3 linked regions of the Homo sapiens genome follow. The protein of the gene in region 3 purifies or fractionates together with the protein of the main gene of each other region. This does not show direct contact. Each region holds a gene or a part of one and is shown on either strand. Other genes may lie near its edges. The genes, in order: PCYOX1, TTC3 and DYNC2LI1.

Region 1 (7,111 bases), about 26 Mb from region 3:
TAAGCCCCTCTGTGAACTAATGTCCACCACTGTTTCAAGCCCTGGCTTACCCACAAAGGCATTGATGTCCGTGCTTTGGCCATAATTGACCCTCATAACAGGAGCAATCATTTCATTGAGGAACTTCTCAGAAAAGCCGGCCTTTTGCAAGGTTTCAAGAAGTGTTCGATTAAGCATTCCAAGGAAGTCATCTCCTCCTAGAGCATGAAGTAATTTTTCGACACTACTGAAGGCATAGTCATGAGACTGGTAGCGGTAGATCCTTTGGAAAAGAAGAGAAATCCATTAAATACCAAACAAGATGTGGGGAAGGGGATGTATAAAGAAGGGAAGTGGCGTCATAAGAATCAAACTGACATCTAGGTGCAGTGGCTCACGCCTATAATCCCCACACTTTGGGAGGCAGAGGTGGGCAGGTCACCTGAGGTCAGGAGTTCAAGACCAGCCTGGCCAACATGGCAAAACCCCAGCTTTACTAAAAATACAAAAATTAACCAGGCATAGTGGTGTATGCCTGTGGTCCCAGCTACTTGGGAGGCTGAGGCAGGAGGACTGCTTGAGCCCCGGAATTCAAGGCCGCAGTGAACTGTGATAATGCCGCTGCACTCCAGCCTGGGCCAGACAGTGACAGTGTCTCTTAAAAAAAAAAAAAGAAAAAAAAAAAGAAAAGAAACTAAGGAAGAAAGAAAGAAGAAGAAAAAGGAAAAATAAAAAGTAGAAGTAAGGCCAGGCGCGGTGGTTTCATGCCTGTAATCCTAGCTCTTTGGAAGGCCAAGGCAGGCAGATCACTAGGTCAGGAGTTTGAGACCAGCCTGACCAACATGGTGAAACCCCGTCTCTACTAAAAATACAAAAATTAGCTGGGCCTGGTGGCGCACGCCTGTAATCCCAGCTATTCAGGAGGCTGAGGCAGGAGAATCGCTTCAACCCAGAAAGCGGAGGTTGCAGTGAGCCGAGATCACACCGCTGCACTCCAGCCTGGGCAACAGAGCGAGACTCCATCTCAAAAAAAAAAAAAAAAAAAAGTAGAAGTAAAATACTTTGTCTAAAGGCCACATGGCAAGTATAAGGCTCAATCACAACTTGCCCACTCTGCTGTCAATCACCCACACATGCACAGTCTCCACTGGAGCACACCTGACCCATTCACTGGTCTCTAAATTTGCCCTACATGCTGTATCCCCACCAGTGCACAAGCTCTTCCCTCCAACCTGAATACACTTCCCATTCCTAACCATGGAACATCTATTCTTCCTTAACAGAACTTGAATCCCACCTTCTCTGAAAAGTCTTGCTCAACTTCCCAGTCCACAGTTATATCATCTCCAGAAGCCTCATAAAACTTAGCACCAATGCCACTCATTCAACAATTAGATGCTTTCTATTATTTTTTAGAAAACATCACTTGACCAAAAAGAAAAATATCACCCAACACTTCTCTGCATTTTATGGATTTAAAACAACATTCACATAAATTAGTGCATTCAGTAATTCAAACACAATTTTTCATGTTGCAAATAGTACAAAGATGGAAAACAGGCTTAAGTTTGGGATAAGTAATACGGGGTTTATCTCTTATTCCCTTAAGGGGCTTATAGTTAGGGATAAGTAATAAGGCACATGCAGAGATAAGTATATGAAAATAAGAAATTAAGAGCCAAGGAAAGATCCCTATCACTGATCATGGAAGGGAAACTTTCACATCAAGTTTTTCTCTCAAAATGTACTATATTTTTTTACAGAACAAGGGACAGTATTATAACCATTTCAGTATTACCTACTAAAAGCATAGTAGTAGTATAAGTGTACAAAATGTTAAACACATTTTTATTGGAAAAACTGATTCGATATCTATGCCAAAACTGAGAAACTAAATACCTTCTAACCATAGCATTTGGGTCCCAGTCTTTAGGAGACTGGAAAAAGTAGGATGGAAACACTGAATTCTTCAGAAAAATAATAGCCTGGATATCTCATATCCAAAGAAGAGTGATCTTTGGCTAATGGTCAACATGAGAAAATAACAGTCAATTAAATAAGCTACTAATGATGCTATAAAAAACATATTCCCCAACTGCTCCTGCCAGAGCTGCAACCTCACTCAAGCAAGTCTCCCTGGGAGGGGGCGGGGTGGCAGCGGTGAGATGAAACTATATACACAATATAAACAGAGAGCACTCTAATTGTTTCATGATACAACTAATCGTATTAGAATAAATACACTGCTGGGTATGGTGGCTCATGCCTGTAATCCTAGCACTTTGGGAGGCAAAGTGGGGCAGCATCACTTGAGGTCAGTAGTTTGAGACCGCCTGGCCAACATGGTGAAACCCCATCTCTACTAAAAATACAAAAATTATCCAGGTGTGGTGGTGCATGCCTGTAATCCCAGCTACTCAGGTGGCTGAGGCATGAGAATTGCTTGACCCAGGAGACAGAGGTTGCAGTAAGTCAAGATCACACCACTGCACTACACCCTGGATGACAGAGCAAGACTCCATCTCAAAAAAATAATAATAATAAATGAAAAAACAGAATAAATACTACTAAAAAACAGCACCCAGGTGAGGCAGCATGCACCTGTAGTCACAGCTACTCAAGAGGCTGAGGTGGGAGGATCACTTAAGCCCAGGGGCACAAGGCTGTAGTACATTATGGTTGCACCTGTGAACAGCCAGCCAATATACTCCAGCCTGGGTGACAGAGTAAGACAGGAGGATACCTTGAGGCCAGGAGTTCAAGACTAGCCTGGGCAACATAGCAAGACTCTGTCTGTACACAAAATGTAAAAATTAGCCAGGCGCAGTGGTTCATGCCTGTAATCCCAGCACTTTGGGAGGCTGAGGCGGGCAGATCGCTTGAGGTCAGGAGTTTGAGACCAGCCTGGCCAACATAGCGAAACCCCACCTCTACTAAAAATACAAAAATTAACTGGGCATGGTGGCGCATGCCTGTAATACCAGCTACTTGGGAGGTGGAGGCAGGAGAATCGCTTGAACCTGGGAGGTAGAGGTTGCAGTGAGCCGAGATCGTGCCACTGCACTCTAGCCTTGGTGACAGAGTGAAACTCCCTCTCAAAAAAAAAAAAAAAAAAATTAAAAATTAGCCAGGCTCCTATATAATAGATTGATCATGCACCATATCCACAGGAGGTTGGAAAAACCATGCCATTTTCTGGAATTTAAGGGTGTTGCATTATTTCATCAATCATTTGTTGACAAAAAAGAAAAACTAAAAAATAAATTTAAAATGTGAACCTTCAGGTATTGAGTAACACCTTTATCTTGGTATAGAACTGATACTTTTTTTTTATTTTGAAATATCTGATAATAATTTGGAATGAAGTAAGGTTCTGTTAAAGAAAATATATTTGAAGACCCTTTAAAGCAGTGAATCTGAAACAATTTTCACACCCTTAAGTGGTTGATACGTACCTATTTTTAGGTATTTTGAGGTATTTACCATAAACTAAATTTAGAAATTTTTTAGATTCACTTGAAGTAAACATTACAAACATTGGATACGGTGGGGTTTTCTTTAGATTTTACTTGAGAGAAGGTGAGTACAAAGCAATTTGCAGTTGTTGTAATGACAAGATTACTGCGCAAGTGTGAATCCAAACAGTATAGCTTTTAAATTTTAAAGCATTTGGTAAATTATCGCTGAGTTTTTTTCTGTTGCCAATAGCAAACTGCTTTTCCATTAATGGAGAATTCACGCCTTTCAAGCATTTTAAATATGACAATATTTATAAATGTATGGTTTGGAGGAATCGTTTAAATTCTCTTTCCTAATTTTCTTTCTTTTGAAGATAGATTCTTTCAACAAGTAATTTGTAGTAATGACTGTGTTGACTTCAATTTTGGAGCGCAGTAGCTATGTTAAAGATGAACTATTTGGTCTCATTGAAGCCAACACAGAACTTGCTGCTGTGTTTTTTCTTCAGTGATAAATAAAATACTTACAGAAAAAAAAAAAAAAAAAAATTAGCCAGGCATGGTGAGGCATGCCTGTAGTCCCAGCTATTCAGGAAGCTGAGGCATGAGGATCACTTCAGCCCCGCTGGTTGAGGCTGCAGTGAGCTGTGATCACACCACTGCACTCCATCCAGCTTGGGCAACAGAGTGAGACCTTGTCTTAAAAAAAACAAAAACAAAAACAAAAAAATAATAATTTTTAAAAAAATATAACTGGGGCCAGGCACAGTGGCTCACGCCTGTAATCCCAGCACTTTGGGAGGCCAAGACAGGTGGATCACCTGAGGTCAGGAGTTCGAGACCAGCCTGACCAACATGGAGAAACCCTGTCTCTACTAAAAATACAAAATTAGCCGGGCGTAGTGGTGCAGTGGCACAGTGAGCCAAGGTGAGCCGAGGAGAGCCAAGATCGTGCCACTGCACTCCAGCCTGGGCAACAGAGACAGACTCCATCTCAAAAGAAAAAAAAAAGGAGAAAATGGTCTGAAAAGAAGACTAGAAATACATGGGGTTAGGAGGGTTGAATTCTAAATAAGACTGTCCAAAAACAAGAGTGGTCAGGAAAAGCCTCACTGAGAAGATGATATAGACCAAAGACCCGAAGGAGATGAGGATGCAAACCAGGCAAACACCTGGGGGAAAATATTTCCGGTAGAGGTAAAAGCAATGCAAAGGTCACATGACAGAAGCTTGCCTGGCACATTCAAGAAACAATGAAGCCAGAGCAGCTGAAGCAGAGTGATATGGGAGAACCGGGAGTGGTACAGCCAGAAATGTTACTGGGGAGAGGAAACTTCCAGAATGGCAGAGGAAGGACCTCTGGAAATCTGCTCCTCCATAAAAGCTATGAGAATACTGCCAAAAATGATCAACATTGACTCTTTCAGAGCTCTGCAGATAAACCAAAGCCTTTCCAAGTCCAAGGAGTATTTATTCAAGAAAAATGTCTGGCAGGCATGGTGGCTCACACCTGTAATCCCAGCACTCTGGGAAGCTGAGCCAGGCGGATCACTTGAGGTCAGGAGTTCAAGACCAGCCTGCCCAACATGGTGAAACACCATCTGTACCAAAAATATAAAAAATTAGCCAGGTGTGGTGGCACACGCCTGTAATCCCAGCTATTCAGGAGGCTGAGGCAGGAGAATCGCTTGAACCCAGGAGATGGAGGTTGCAGTGAGCCAAGATCGCACCATTGCACTCCAGCCTGGGCGACAAGAGGGAGACTCCGTCGAAAGAAAGAAAGAAAGAGAAAAAGAGAGAGAGAAAAAAAAATAAAAAATAAAACCAGCACCCTTCCAACTGCAATGTGAAACTAGCAAGCTAGAAGCCACTGGAGAGAACACAACGAGTTTGTAGCTCCCAAAAAGCACTATCCTCAGAGAACTGTCAATATTTGACCTATCTGGCAGCTCCGAAAAAGCTCTATCCTGAAGGCTTGTCTTTATTCGACCTGATTCAAAGTTCACTCTATGCAACAGCCCCATCCTGAGGGCACGTGTCCACGTGTCAAAAAAAAAATCTGTGGCAATTGTTTAACATCACAGATGCCGGAGGCTATGACATCAATAGAGACTACAAGAGGCTGACCAAAAAAACTTTTTAAAAAAGGCCGGGTGCAGTGGCTCACGCCTGTAATCCCAGCACATTGGGAGGCACAGGCTGGAGGATCACTTGAGGTTAGGAGTTCGAGACCAGCCTGGCCATCATGGCGAAAACCCATCTCTACTAAAAACACAAAAAATTAGCCAGGGTTGGTGGTGCATGCCTGTAGTCCCACCTACTCAGGAGGCTGAGGCACAAGAATTGCTTGAACCCGGGAGGCAGAGGTTGCAGTGAGCCGAGATAGCGCCACTGAACTCCAGCCTGGGCAACAGAGCGAGACTCTGTCTCAAAAAAAAAAAAAAAAAAATTAGCTGGGCATGGTAGTGCACATCTGTAGTCCCAGCCACTCAAGGGGCCTGAGGTTGGAGAATTGCTTGAGCCTGGGAGGCAGAGGTTGCTGTGAACATACTACACTCTAGCCTGGGCAACAGAGTAAAACATCATCTGAAAAAAAAAAAAAAACAGACACACAGATCCTTGAAACAAATAAGAAAACCCAGAAATAAACCTTCATGAATATGATCAAATGATCTTGACAGAACTGAAATACATAGTTCAACAATAATGGAGACTTCAATATCCCATTTTCAATAATGGACAGTTACTGAAAATGACAACAGTGTATTAGTTCACCAAGACTGCCATAACACAGTACCAAAGACTGGATGGCTTAAACAAAAAAAGTTTTATTTCTTATAGTTCTGTAGGCCAAAAGTCCAAGATCAAGGTGTGGATGCATTCGGTTTCTTCTGAGGCCTATTTCCTTGGCTTGCAGATGGCCACCTTCTTGCTGTGTCCTCACATGGTCTTTGTGTGTTTCTTCTGTGTCCCAATTTTTTTTTTTTTTTTTCTGAGACAGAGTTTCACGCTTGTTGCCCAGGCTGGAGTGCAATGGCTCACTGCAACCTCTGCCGCCCAGGTTCAAGTGATTCTCTTGCCTCAGCCTTCCTGAGTAGCTGGGATTACAAGCATGCACCACCACGCCCAGCTAATTTTTTGTATTTTTAGTAGAGAAGGGGTTTCACCATGTTGGTCAGGCTGGTCTCGAACTCCCAACCTCAGGTGATCTGCCCGCCTTGGCCTCCTTTCTGTGTCCTAATCTTAAGGACACCCATCAAATTGTTTTAGGGTCTACGCTAAAGACCTCATTTTAACTTAATCACATATTTAAAGGCCCTACATACATATGCAGTCACATTCTGAGTACTGGGTGGCTAGTGTTTCAACCTATGAATTTTGGGGAAAACAAATTTAAAAGTAAGGGATGAGAGCACAGAATCCTGTCATGTCTTCTCAGTCACAAAACAGATTTTGGCTATAAATCTCTATTAATGAAATAGCCACTGAAGGTTTCTGAGTTAGTGGAGTGATGTGATGAGCCTTAGATTTTAAAGAACTACTTTGGCTGCTAACCTGAGAACAAATGGTAGCAATATAACAGTAATGGCAGATGATTTAGGAGGTGTCTTGGTTTTCCACTGCTGCTATAACAAATTACCACAAACTTAGTGGCTTAAAACAACACAAATTTA
Region 2 (7,111 bases), on a different chromosome or scaffold from region 3:
AGGCGGCTAATTTGGGCTCCACTTCTTTAAGCTCACTCAAAACATGCAGAAATATTCTTGTCTTTACTCTGTTATTTTCTTGAATCAAGTGGCGAATAACATAGTCCACTGCTTCATTTAGAAAATTTCTGCTAGAAAAACAGGTTGTATAGTCTTCTGTGCTCAAAACTTTCCAAGAAAGCAATTCTTTGAGAAGCATGGCTGTATTCTGTATGCCGGATTTAATCTTGTCAGCATACTGCTTTATACACTGTAGAATTCTGTCATCAAGGAACTGACAACGCTGAACATTGTCTACAGTTTCTAAGGATAAATAACAATGGTTAAAGTGATAAATAGGACTAATTCACAATTACATAAACTTAGAAATAACAAAATTACATAATATAAAATATGATTCAGATTGATTATACTGTTTTACTAAACTCAAGAAACTTTAATTAGAAATATAAACACTTAACAATACTTTTGAAAAGACATGAAAGTGTACGCTAAAATAAACATACCAAAAGTAAGCATTTTACACCCTTCATTCTGAACCATTCATGTAGTAGCATTTGAAACTTAGTTCCTCTAGGCCAGGCGTGGTGGCTCATGCCTGTAATCCCAGCACTTTGGGAGGCCGAGGAGGGTGGATCAGGAGATCGAGACCATCCTGGCTAACACGGTGAAACCCCATCTCTACTAAAAATACAAAAAATTAGCTGGGCATGGTGGCGGGCACCTGTAGTTCCAGCTACTGGGGAGGCTGAGGCAGGAGAATGGCGTGAACCCGGGAGGCGGAGCTTGCAGTGAGCCGAGATCGCGCCACTGCACTCCAGCCTGGGCAACAGAGTGAGACTCCGTCTCAAAAAAAAAAAACAAAAAAAAAAAACAACTTAGTTCCCCTAAAATACGGCCACTTCCTTCAACAATCCTAACCCAGCCTCATCAACTACCTTAACTTTATATACAATAAATATGTTTAGTCATTAAGCACAGAAAGTTAAAATACAATCTCTGAAAGGTTTTTCAGTGGGAATACAATCTCTGAAAGGTTTTTCAGTGTTCTTTACACCAACCCAATTCTGTCTTCGAGTAACAGAAGACAGTGATAGTATTAAATTACTAAGTGAAATCTTTATTTCAATTCAATAATGATGAATATAAGGCCCAAAAGATGCTTACATTTATACATTTAAATGAGAGTATATTATTCTTATCATGCCTTTGGCTTCTGCATACCTTTCTGCTCTTCATTTTTGGGTGGATTACTTTCTCTTAAGTCCTCCTCCATTCTTTCTTGTGCTAACTTTTTTGCTTCTTTTTTTTGGATCTTTCTCTTCAATTTTTTGTCTTCTTTCAGTCTTAGTTTCTCTAGGCTGATAAACATTTACAATTAGTGACAACTCAATGAACTGTTTTCCTTTGACTATCGTAGAAACCATCTTCCAAGCAATATATTAGAAGTTTTCCTTTTTTAATCAGAGCCCGGCCTACATCTTCCATTCAATGTAAGAAACTGTCAGTATTGTCAAAATAAGGGTACTTGTTTCATGAAAACAAAAACCTCAATGATTAGGTGATGTCTAAGGATGCAGTCTACAGATTGTATAGATGTCACTTTCATGTATCTAAGTTACTTCATAGGGTAAACAGAAATAGTACAAATTACTCTGCAAAATAATTCATGTAAACTCTCATTTCTAAGAAAGGTCCCATAGTAAAATATAATTTTCACATCTCAATAATAACCCACAACACTATAATTTGGTTGATCTGGTTACAATGAATTCTCTCCAACAAATAATTCTGTTCATCTTTTCTTTTGCTTTTTCTTGGTCACAAATGATAAAAAAAAATCACTTCTTAGAAAGAAAAACAAGAAGCAGGACCAAAAAGAAAAGAAAAAAGAATCTGAATTATTTGATCTAAACAAAAAGCTATAGAGAAGTAATAATTTAGACAGTACATTGAGTATTTCAGGGTAAAAAATAGTCATAGGTTCAAAATGTTTACTGAAGAGAGATAAAAAGAAAAATATGCTTTTGGAATTAAAGTTTCAACAACTGAGAGCAAACTGTATAGTTTTTATATAAATGCCAAATCTATTAATCAAACATGTAATTTCACAGCATCAAATGTTATAATTTTAATTGTAAATTCAACCACTAGATAAATAATTCTGAATCAAGTTTTTAGTATTTAATCATTCTAGGCTAGTTCTCTTTAAGTTTTAATTTTCCATAAAAATCATTTTAAAAAACACTTATTTGAATATATGTATACACAGCCAATTTTTAAAAAGGCATAATTTAGAAATCTGCATTTAATAGAATTATATTCTAAGAGACATCATCAAACCACTGATTGATTGTTAAAAATCTTACCTAGAACATTTCTGTTTCAGAATAGGTCTTGGAGGAACCTTTTCTTTTATGACCTTGTGTTCAAACTTTAAATAAAACAAAGACATCCAAAATTTGTCTCATACTCCCATGACATAAAACACAAAACCACAAGTAACAAGTATTTCAGAAGCACACATAATGTTCAGTTTGATAGAGAACAGTGATGATGTTCTGACCCAGACAAAAGCCCAGAAAGCTTTAGCAAAATAATTTACTGAAGAGGAACAAGAGGGTAGACACACTTGAGGAAAAAGTTTTTAAAAAATTAAGAGTAAGCAGACGATCTAATAAAGTGTAAATATTATTACAACTACCCACTCTTGCCATTCCCATGTCATGAAGTTAAAGGTAATCCCTCAAGACGCTCTTCCCCCTCCCTAAAAACCTGCACACCCACTACTGCCCAAAAGTTTACCGGGATTAAGAAAATGAAGTTATCAAAAACAGTAAAAATAGTAAAACTAAGATATAAAAAGCCTCCTTTTCCTATTAAGAAATAAAAGAATATAAGAATGCTTTCATTACAATGAAGCATTCTCACATCCCAGTATTTCCTATATTTTCTTAAATGAAGTAATTGTTTCTTTCCTGGAAAAGATCCAAATTACATGATATCTACAAATTCAAATCATGTTTCAAAAGGTGTAAACATTTTGGTTATCTATCTAACAAGGTTTCCCCTTTATTACTTACTTCACATTTAACTTCACCACCACTGCTGAAGATGATAATCTTAGAAATGACACCTTCACAGTCAGGGGTAAGACATATTCCTTGTAGAAAATCCTATTTGATTAAAAAAAAAAAAAACAAGAAAAATGTTATGTCTAGGGGGGATAAATCTATACACGTATACTATTTTTACCACTAGGAACAGTCAAAATACGGACTAAAACCATCTTCAGGCAAGTGGTGAAAATCCTTACTCACTGCCATGCGAATTTTAAGGCTTCCGTGTAGGAAAAATATACTTTCAGGTGTGGGTCTGACCATGTGACTTGTTTTCATCAATGCAAAGTGACCAGACATGACATACACATGTCTAGACAAAAGGTTTAACAAACACTTCATAGACTGGACATTGTTCTTTTTCCTCTGACACAGGAAGATGTTCCAGAAAAGGGTCATTCTTCAACTTAGATTGAGAAACAAGGAATAGAGCCACACAAAATAAAGCTGCTACAGCCCAGTCCCAGCCAACAACTGCAGAACTGCAGGACAAGTCATGTAAGCAAAAAACAAACTTCTCTGATGTATGCCACAAGATATTTGGGTTGCATCACTTCAGCATATCCTAGGGAAAGCTGACTAATTTACAGAGTGTATTTAAAATGATGGGAATAGTTAAGACCACTAAAAGAGGGTATATCACTAGAGAAACTCAATTTAGGTAAGACAAAGACATAGCAGAAGTGACTCAAAGGTGACAGTTATTTACTCATATCATTATATTGTTAATTAATTATGTGAAAATGTACAAAATGTGAGAATTTATTTCTACCATACTTTAATAATTGCTATTGTTAACAGATGCCTAGTACAACTGCCTCATTCTTTCCCCAATAAGAACAGTGGTCTGCATAAGCCTAAGAAGTGTAGGAAAAGGTCCATAGTTTCTATAGATCAGAAACAAATTCTATGAATACAAATAAGATTGTAATACTATGACTTCCCTCAAAGTATGTCTACTTAATGGTAATTAACATCATTATCTTGGTAATAAGAAAATCCCTGGAGAGAAATGGCAGTTTAAAATTGAAGTTGATCTTTCTTCCCAACATTAAAAAAATTGTTTTGAGTTGACTTCTTAGTACAAATTACCTCATCAAATTTTGGTTTTGAAATCCCTAATTCCACATCAAAACTTTCAAGTGGGGCCTGGTGCAGTGGCTCATGCCTATAATCCCAGCACTTTGGGAGGCTGAAGTAGGATCACTTGGGTCAAGGAGTCTGAGGCTGCAGTGAGCTACGACTGCACCACTGCACTCTAGCCTGGGCAACACAGTGAGATCCGTCTCTTTAAAAAAACAAAGCCTCTATGGTTAATGCCTTTATGATTGTCCAAATAAAAACAAATTTGATTTTCCACTTTATTATTAAAGTTATAATTTAAAATTTTCTAATTATGTGCAGAATGTTCAGGAAGGAATTCTTGGGGGAAAAATTGACATACAATAAGTATACTGAAAAATTCAGACAATCCTGTTATGCTTTACCTTGTCAATTTTATCATTAAAGGTTGTAGTTTTTAACTTCTTCCAGCAATTCATGTGAAATTCTATTTTACAGTACTGGCAACAGCTGATGCGTATAAAACCCTAGGGTTACAAAAAATTTTTTAATTAACGTTTTAAAGATGTCTCTGCACACTCACTCACTACAACATACATAAAGACAGAGAGAGCTTGACTAACATATTTATTTCCACAGCATAAAGTTGCATCATTCTTCAAAATATATCAAATATTTTATAAACATTATTTCATCTGATTTACTAACCAGGGACATTGGAACAGCAGGACAAGGGCAGCTACTAGCTTCTTGAATAAACCAGTATAACTCAATTAAGTGCCAGACTTATCTCAAATTTAGGTCTCTAACAGCTAATTCAATGATCACAATGACCTTTAGATTTGGGACTCAAATTTTATGAGAGATCAGAATTGCAACAAATCAGAGGTAACAATCTCACTTTGTTTCCTATCCTCCTAAGGTAGCTTGAAGAGGAAAAAGAATGAGCCAGCCTGCCTTCTCAGGTCACTACCCCAGCCCAGAGCGTTTATACATCAGTGGCTCTGGTTCCCATGTGAGACGATGTAGACCTAAAAAAGTCCAGGAAGGCTGGGCGTGGTGGTTCATACCTGTAATCCCACACTTTGGGAGGCTGAGGGGGTGGATCACGAAGTCAAGAGATCGAGACCATCCTGGCCAATATGGTGAAACCCTGTCTCTACTAAAAATGCAAAAATTAGCTGGGCGTGCTGGGACACGCCTGTAATCCCAGCTACTTGGGAGGCTGAGGCAGGAGAATTGCTTGAACCCAGGAGGCGGAGGTTGCAGTGAGCCAAGATCGTGCCACTGCACTCCAGCCTGGGTGACAGAGTGAGACTTATCTCAAAAAAAAAAAAAAAATCCTGGGAAAGGGGTGGACGACTGCTAACTAGCCAGAGAACTTGGGTGCCTCCAATTACAGATTGTTTTGAGCCCATTTTAAGAAATGATTTTGCAAGTTAATGTCCCACTGTACACTCATTATTTACCTTAAAGTCTGGATCAGTTATGTATATCTGGATCTTAGAATATCCATGGCACTTCTGATAGCAACAAATGGCATCTGGCACTGGAGGGAACTTGCATTCTTCAACAAATTTCTCTAACAGCATCTAAAACAAAATAAACAAAAATGATACCATTACAATACTAATCTGTCAATAAAAATGCTTGTGATTTCAATAACCTCTTGCCATCAAAATATTTTCAGCATAAGAATGACTAAATTTTTTCACCAACAACAAACTACATACAACTTTTAAAGTTTTTCCTTTTAAAAGGAAGGCTGATAAGAGACATAAGAGAGATTTAAAAAGAGGACTGGACAAAATTTTTTTTCAGAATTTCGAAAGAATCAAAATTTTGTCCTGTTACAATCATCAAATCGCATTTTATAATTTACAGCTCTCAGAAATCTTCCATAAGCATTAAGAGGAAGTCAAGTAAGGCAGAATAACCCTTAGGGTAATCCTGAGGACTTTACCAGGCTCCTCTTGCCCAACATCACCTCATCCAGAATCCTAACACTCCCATTATCTTCCTCCTTGCAGCTCTGCCACTGTTGTTTGTGGACTCCCTGGAGAATTATTCCACTGCTAATGAAGCCCCCAAGAGACTCATGCCATGCTTCCAGTGCTGGCTTTTTGTTATCAATAGCTCCTATGCCTCTATCCCAATCTTGTATGAAGAGAGGTAAATCCAAGAATCCCTGTGTTGTATTTTTTATAATAGCTTTGTTGAGACATAATTTACACACTATACAACTCAAATGAAGTGTACGGTTCGGTGTTCTTAGCATATTCACAGGATGTGCTGACATCACCACGGTCTAAATTTAGAACATTTTCAAAAAGAAACTCCATACGCATTAGCAGTCCCTCCTCATTTTCCCCTAACCTTCCAGGCCCAGCAATCACTGGTCTACTTTCTGTCACTATATACAGACTTGCTTATTCTGGAGATTTCATAGGAATGGACTCACACAAGCCCTTTGTGTTTGGCTTCTTTTACTTAGCATAATGTTTCCAAGGTCCATCCATGCTGCAGCATGTTATCAGTACTCTTTTTTTTTTTTGAGACAGCGTCTCACTCTGTCACTCAGGCTGGAGTGCAGTGGCACGATCTCAGCTCACTGCAACCTCTGCCTCCTGGGCTCAACTGACCCTTCCACCTCAGCCTCCTGAGTAGCTGGGACTACAGGCATGTGCCACTATGTTTGGCTAATTTTTGTATTGATGGGTTTCGCCATGTTGCCCAGGCTGGTCTTGAACTCCTGAGCTCAAGCAATCCTCCTGCCTTGGCCTCCCAAAGTGGTAGGATTACAGGCGTAAGCCACCAAGACTGGCCATTTGTTTTTGAGGCAGACTCTCACTCTGTTGCCCAGGCTGCACTGCAGTGGCACAATCAAGGCTCACTGCAGCCTCAACCTCCCAGGTTCCAATACTTACGTA
Region 3 (7,111 bases):
CCTTGACCTCCTGAGCTCATGTGATCCTCCCACCTCAGCCTCCCAAGTAGCTGAGACAACTGGTGTGTGCCACCATGGCCAGCTAATTTTTAAAATTTTTTGTAGAGACAGGTTCTCACCATGTTGCCCAGGCTGGTCTGAAACTCCTGAGCTCAAATGATCCTCTCGCCTTAGCCTCCCAAAGTGTTAGGACTACAGGTGTGAGCCACTGCACCCAGCTGGAAATTTTTTAAATAAAAATGTTTTGGCCAGGCATGGTGGCTCACGCTTGTAATCCCAGCAGTTTGGGAGGCCGAGGAGGGTCGATCATGAGGTCAGGAGTTCAAGACCAGCCTGGCCAACATAGTGAAACCCCATCTCTATTAAAAATACAAAAATTAGCCAGGTGTGGTGGCACGTGCCTGTAGTCCCAGCTACTCAGGAGGCTGAGGCAGGAGAATCACTTGAACCCAGGAGATAGAGGTTGCAGTGAGCCGAGACCATGCTATTATACTCCAGCCTGGGTGACGGAGTGAGACTGTCTCAAAAAAAAAAAAAAAAAAAAAAAAGTTGTTATATTTTATTGCATTAAAGGACATTTAGTAAAGTTTAGTCCTGCTATGGGAGATAATGATAACAGTGATATAATAACCAACATTTATTGAGTAATATTCTGTTCTAGGCCCTGTGCTAAGCATTTCACATGTACTCCCTCTTTGAATCCTCACAACAACCCTATGAAGAAGGTACTGTTTTTCTCCATTTTACCCTGGAGGACAATGAGGCTTAAGTGAAATTAAGTGACTTGCCGAAGATCACACGTCTAATAAATGGTCACTCTGAGATTCGAACCCAGGGAGCATGACTTCAGATTTCATGTTTTTAACTTTTACAACAAACAGCACTTTTTTAAAGAGCCCCCATCCCCAATACACACACTGATAGAGTTGATTTTTGTTTTTCTTTTAGGGGAATATAGATTCTAATTCTTAAGGGGATACCAAAAATGAATAAATAGATCATCAACTTATCTCTTTAAACTTGGTTGGGATTTATGGATATAAGCAATTTAGAACTTTTGTTCCAAAGAAGGGGGAGACCATCTAGCAGTGCATGTTCAACAGATGCATTATCAAACACTCTGTAAGGAGAGGTCTTCAGCAGTGGGAAAGCAACGGGACCATGTGCATTAGCAAAAGCATTTATTCCTCGTAGCTGTGCATCAAGTTGCTGATTTCCCCAAATTTGGTACTGTCCATTCAAGCCCAAAGGACAAGAAATGTACAAACCATTAATGATGCTCCATAATAATGTGCAACAAATCGAAGTGTCTTGCATATTACCTTTCTCTTCTCAGACTCAAAATCCTGTAGAAATATGTTATTTTAAAAAGTCAAGATAACCAAATATCTATAGCAGGAAGATTCAAATTATTAAATGTAGAATAGATTATTTCTTATTTTTTTAAACTCACTTTCAGGAATAGGATTCCATTACCTTGATATTTATTTCATAGAGAGTTGAACAATAGCTGCAGCCTTCTTAGAACTACAGCTAACAGATCTTTCTTTGTTTAAATACTTAGCTCAATAGAATTTAGATATAAGCACACATTTCATAGTGTGGAATTCTAACGATTCTCTGACAAGCAAAGATAAGAAGGAACTAATTTTCTACTTTCTTCCATTTAAAAGTTGGGAAGTAAGTCATATTCCCCAGTGACTGGGTTGAAGACTTTTTTTTTTTTTTTTGAGACAAGTGTCTCACTGTGTAACCCAGGCTGGAGTATAGTGGTGTGATTACAGCTCACTGTAACCTCAAATTCCTGGGCTCAATTGATCCTCCCCCTTCAGCCTCCCAAAGTGCTGGGACTACTGGCATAAGCCACTGTGCCCGGCAAGATTCATTTTCTAAATCTGCCTTATCCCCATTCTAATCACTGCATTTATTTTCTTTACCTATTTTTTTCTGTCCCAACTATGTCTTTTCCAAAATCTTTAAGATGCATGACTTAACCGATTCCTTCAATAATTATTTTTCTTATTTTGATATTATTTTTGTACCTCCCTCATAAAAAGCACAGCCATATATGTACAACAAACTCAGCTAGAAGCGGAAGAGCTTACCTGAAAAACATCATATTTACTTCCAATTATGACCAGAGGTACCGGAAATGGGTCAATTAATTCATGATCCTGCTAATAAACATATTTCCTTGAGTTGTTGTAATTCTTTATTGCTAGGTGCTTAGCAATTTCTATTTACTTCCAAAAACATTCCATTTTCAGTCTCTTCATAGATGTTTACTTAATTTGCTTGACATAGAATTTGTTCTAATATTTAACTTTCACTTCCTAAGCTATATTTCATAAGTGTAAAACTAGAAATGGCAATTCCCTAAATTACTATGATATTTATTATTTTCCTTTTTCTACCCTTTTATTTCCTTATATAACATATTACCTTCCTGGTTTTTTTTTATTCTATTTTATGTTGACTGTTGGAACAGCATTTATCCAGCATAGATTTGTTTTGTTCCATTATTTCCTATGAAAAACACTTCCTCTCTTTTTTTTTCTTTTGAGGCAGAGTCTCCCTCTGGAGTCAGGCTGGAGTGTAGTGGCGCGATCTCGGCTCACTGCAACCTCCACTTCCCAGGTTCAAGCGATTCTCCTGCCTCAGCCTCCCAAGTAGCTGGGACTACAGGCATGTACCACCACACCCAGCTAATTTTAGTATCTTAAGTAGAGACGGGGTTTCACCATGTCGGCCAGGATGGTCTTGATCTCTTGACGTCGTGATCCGCCCGCCTCGGCCACCCAAAGTGCTGGGATTACAAGCATGAGCCATCGCACCCTGCTACACTTTCTTATAAACTCTGGATAATATAAAATGCTGCTCTCAGTTTTCCAGATGATGATATTTATTATTGTATTTGAAGAACTTGTGTTACCATCATAGCAACTTTATAATTTAATTAGCTGTCAGATGATAAAAAGATACTGAATAAGTGACAGAAACGAAATGAATGTAAAATACAGAGTGATGGTGAAGGCTATTACAACTCTACCCCTTGCTTAAAGTTGTAGCTTCATCTAGTCTTTGTCAGGTGACTTTTGTACAATCTGGCTTTTTATCTTCATTTTTACAGAGATTATAAAATCAATATCAAACCACTACTTTAAAACTCTATTTCTCTGATTGGTGTAATATGCCATAACAATCACAGAAGATGTCTAACAAGAAGATATAAGGAATCTTCTTCCTTGTTTTGCTCTTACTGAGGTTTTAATAAATTGCTGTAATTTTCCAGTGAACAGGTTCATCTACATCAAATGAATTTCAAGTCATGCATAAAAATCTAAAGAAGTTGTTTGTGATGTTATCATTAACTATAAATGGGACTAAGGATTCCAGTAATAATCCCAAACAGCAACTCACAGGATGATCCTTCGGCATATTATTCCAGATCTTCTGTCTCATTTCAGAAACTGCTTTAGCATTTGTCTTTCCCAGTTTCATTATCACTTTGTCTACATGGCTTTTTGTGGCTTGCAAGAGATTTTCCATGGTGGGCCAGAGATCATTAGGTTTTGAAAGATCCAGAACGAGAACAAGAGAAAACGTCCTAAAGAAATAAAAACACTTTTCAAAAAAGACTCAAAATAATTACCATTTTGAAATCCTAATGTACTGAAATTTATCTAAGAATAACTAAAATATACCTTAAGGGGAAAAAAAAACCGTAGCATTATTCTAAGACTCCCAAAAACAAAAAACCAAAGTCATAGCCTTATTTATTCCAATACTTTCCTCTAGTAATATTTAAGTGTTACAATAGTGGAACTAAGTTTCTGTTTGAACTAAAATTAAAAGTAGTTTAGTTCAAATAGAGAAGCTCCAAGCATTTGCATCGACAATGCCACGTTTACATCCAGTTTTACTGTGTGCTCCAAAAAAGGGAAGCAAAAATAATAAAAGAAGCAAAAACAGTAACACAATAATCAGGTAAAGGAGAAGAAAATAGATATATGGGTGGACCTTGCTAGGGAACTACCTAGTTAATCTCCACAATAACCCTCTCCAGAAGATGTTATAATGTCCATTTTATAGATTAGAAGTCTGAGGCACAGATTTATATAATTAGTAAATTGTAGAACTGGTATTTAGATCCAAAGTTACACGTTTTTCTGCAATACCATTCTGTCTCTCTGAAAGCACACTCCTGACCACCAGATACATGACCACCATCACCACATGCACTTGTATTCTGTTCATGCCCATCAAACATAAACCTAGACTCGGCAACAAAAACAAACATTCCTGTTCAAAAATGGGCAAAGAGGCCAGGGATGGTGGCTCATGTCTGTAATTCTAGAGCTTTGGGAAGCTGAGGCAGGAGGATCACTTGAGGCCAGGAGTTCAAGACCAGCCTGGGCAACATAGTGAGACCCCAACTCAACTATATTAAAAAAAAAAAAAAAGAAGGCAAAAGACTCAAATAGACATTTCGCCAAAGAAGATATACAGATGGCCAATTAACACATGAAAAGATGTCCAACTTCCTATCCATTAGGCTAGCTATTGTCAAAACATTTTTTTGTTGTTGTTTTTGGAGGAGGAGTCTCTATTGTCCAGGCTGGAGTACAGTGGCATGATCTCAGCTCACTGCAACCTCTGCCTCCCGGGTTCAAGCCATTCTCCTGCCTCAGCCTCCCAAGTAGCTGGGATCACAGGCATGCACCACCACATCCGGCTAATTTTTGTATTTTTAGTAGAGACGAGGTTTCACCATGTTGCCCAGGCTGGTCTCGAACTCCTGACCTCAGGTGATCTACCCACCTCAGCCTCCCAAAGTGTTGGGATTACAGGTGTAAGCCACCACTCCTGGCCTAAAACATTTTTTTAAATGAGAAGATAACAAGTATTAGTGAGGATACAGAGAAATTAGAACCCCTGTACATTGCTTATGGGAATGTAAAATGGTGCAGCCACTGTGTAAAATAGTATAGTGATTCCTCAAAAAATTCACCATAGAATTACCAGATGATCCAGCAATTCCACTTCTGAGTCTAAACCCAAAAGAACTGAAGGAAGAGATTTAAACAGATAATGTACACCAATGTTCATACCAGCATTACTCACAATAGTCAAAAGATGAAAACAACCCAAATGTTCTGCATGGATTAACGGATAACTGAACTGTGGTATTTGTTTACACAATGGAACATTATTTAGCCTTAGAAGTGAGGGAAATCCTGACACATACTACAAACGGAAGAACCCTGAAGACGTTATGCTAAATGAAATAAATAACAAAAGGACAAATAATGAATGATTTCATTTATATGAGGTACTGGAGTGGTCAAATTCATAGAGACAGGCAGTAGGGATGATAGTTGCCAGGAGCTGGGGAAGGAAAAACAAGGAGTTATTGTTTAATAGGTAAAGAGTTTCAGTTTGAGAAGATCAAAAAGTTCTGGAGATGTATGGTGATGAGAATATACTTGATGTTACTGAACTGCACAGTTAAAAATGACTAAAATTTTACGCTATGTATATTTTACGACAATAAAAACTAAACATTTGTAAATCTAGGAGTATTTTTAAAAATGGTTATAATAAGTATGTAGAACCATAATCCTTGATGGTTTAGGATTATATCCAATATAACCAATATATCCTTGATCAACACAGCAAACATTCTGCTAGAAGACATAGCACAAAATTATAATATGTTATTTAATTATTTTGTTTAGTTCAAGTAAACAGGCTATTTTGTATAATTCAAGCAAAACAGTAACAATTCTGTTGGTCTAAATTCAGAAAGTAGTCTTTTACACATTAATTATCAAATTTTCTAAAAATTATTGTGCTATTACATTGTCTAGGCAATTATATTTATGTCATTTTAATAAGCTCATAAGCAGTTTTGCTTAAGTGTAAAAATAGTATATACATTTTTAATTGTACTAATTTCATTTTCAGGGTTTTGGTATGGTTGTGTTTCAACTATGATTTAACATTTTTTCATTGTGATGAAATGGATATAACATAAAATTTATTATTTTTTCAAATGAAAAATTATTCTAAGCAAAAGAAAAATAAATTACTCAAATTTTTTCTAAGATTAAAATTTTTGTTTACAGTATATTAGAAATACTTTTGTTACTTTTTACCTATTTCATAGCAAATGATAGCCAAAAAATTTTTTTACATAAACTCCTAAAACAGAGATTCAGACTACAGGAAATGTTCTATTACAAATTGTCTAAAGTGTGTGGAAATGTTCAATGCATTTATAATTCTATAAACAGTTATTTCAAAGATAAACAGTATCTAACAGTATTTGGCAATATTGTTTTCTCAAGTTGTGAGACTTCATCCAACACAAGGAAATTATGTGTCAAACTAATTCCAGTCAAAAACAGTTTGAGTGTTTTTGACATGGTGAATGAAATGTTTTTCCATGAATTATTTAACCACCCAGCAACCTACTTTAGACCCAAGCCTATGGCTCCCTTTCCCTTTCCCTCTGTTGATCATAACCCTGACCCTTCCTCTCTCCTAAAGCAGGTCCCAGCTGTCATGGGGCTCCAGGGAAAGGAAGCCCAAGACCTCACAAATGAGGTATTAACCCTTGGGATGATCTGGCTTCCTGCAGAACCTAGAATTTCCACAACCCCAGCAGGCCAAAACCTTTTGGGCTTCAAGAAGGGGAGTGAGGTAATAAAACAAGTCAGTTGAATAGGAGGCGACTCCCAACCCAGGTAAGAGCCACCTCCTGTATTTTCACCCTTTCAGCCTCTGGCCACTGTAACTGGAAGCTCCTCCCACCCTATCTCTCTCTCTCTCTTTTTTAAAGAGACAATGTCTCACTCTGTCACTCAGGCTGGAGTACAGTGGTATGATCATAGCTTACTGCAGCCTTGAACTCCCTGGCTCACGCAATCCTCCTGCCTCAGCCACCTGTGTAGCTGGTACTACAGAGGCTTGCTATGATGCCTGGCTAATTTTATTTTTTAATTTTTTTGTAGAGATGGGGTCTCACTATGTTGCCCAGGCTGGTCTTGAACTCCAGACCTCAAGTGATCCACTGGCTCTGGCCTCTCAAAGTGCTGAGATTACAGGC

The links.
Region 1: the proteins of DYNC2LI1 (region 3) and PCYOX1 purify together in Homo sapiens (affinity purification with mass spectrometry; 2 studies listed by BioGRID and IntAct, with this or other methods). This does not show direct contact.
Region 2: the proteins of DYNC2LI1 (region 3) and TTC3 purify together in Homo sapiens (affinity purification with mass spectrometry; 2 studies listed by BioGRID and IntAct, with this or other methods). This does not show direct contact.

Annotation. Positions count from the first base shown.
Region 1 is NC_000002.12:70,268,110-70,275,220, reverse strand, and holds part of PCYOX1 (prenylcysteine oxidase 1 precursor), read right to left. Parts: intron 263-7,111; coding exon 51-262; intron 1-50. UniProt on the Homo sapiens protein: Prenylcysteine oxidase that cleaves the thioether bond of prenyl-L-cysteines, such as farnesylcysteine and geranylgeranylcysteine. Only active against free prenylcysteines and not prenylcysteine residues within prenylated proteins or peptides.
Region 2 is NC_000021.9:37,146,143-37,153,253, reverse strand, and holds part of TTC3 (E3 ubiquitin-protein ligase TTC3), read right to left. Parts: intron 5,774-7,111; coding exon 5,651-5,773; intron 4,709-5,650; coding exon 4,607-4,708; intron 3,177-4,606; coding exon 3,084-3,176; intron 2,435-3,083; coding exon 2,370-2,434; intron 1,362-2,369; coding exon 1,225-1,361; intron 304-1,224; coding exon 1-303. UniProt on the Homo sapiens protein: E3 ubiquitin-protein ligase which catalyzes the formation of 'Lys-48'-polyubiquitin chains. Mediates the ubiquitination and subsequent degradation of phosphorylated Akt (AKT1, AKT2 and AKT3) in the nucleus.
Region 3 is NC_000002.12:43,790,953-43,798,063, reverse strand, and holds part of DYNC2LI1 (cytoplasmic dynein 2 light intermediate chain 1), read right to left. Parts: intron 3,608-7,111; coding exon 3,421-3,607; coding exon of another isoform or gene 3,322-3,420; exon of another isoform or gene 2,885-3,321; intron 2,178-2,884; coding exon of another isoform or gene 2,175-2,177; coding exon 2,106-2,174; intron 1,347-2,105; coding exon 1,269-1,346; intron 1-1,268. UniProt on the Homo sapiens protein: Acts as one of several non-catalytic accessory components of the cytoplasmic dynein 2 complex (dynein-2 complex), a motor protein complex that drives the movement of cargos along microtubules within cilia and flagella in concert with the intraflagellar transport (IFT) system, facilitating the assembly of these organelles.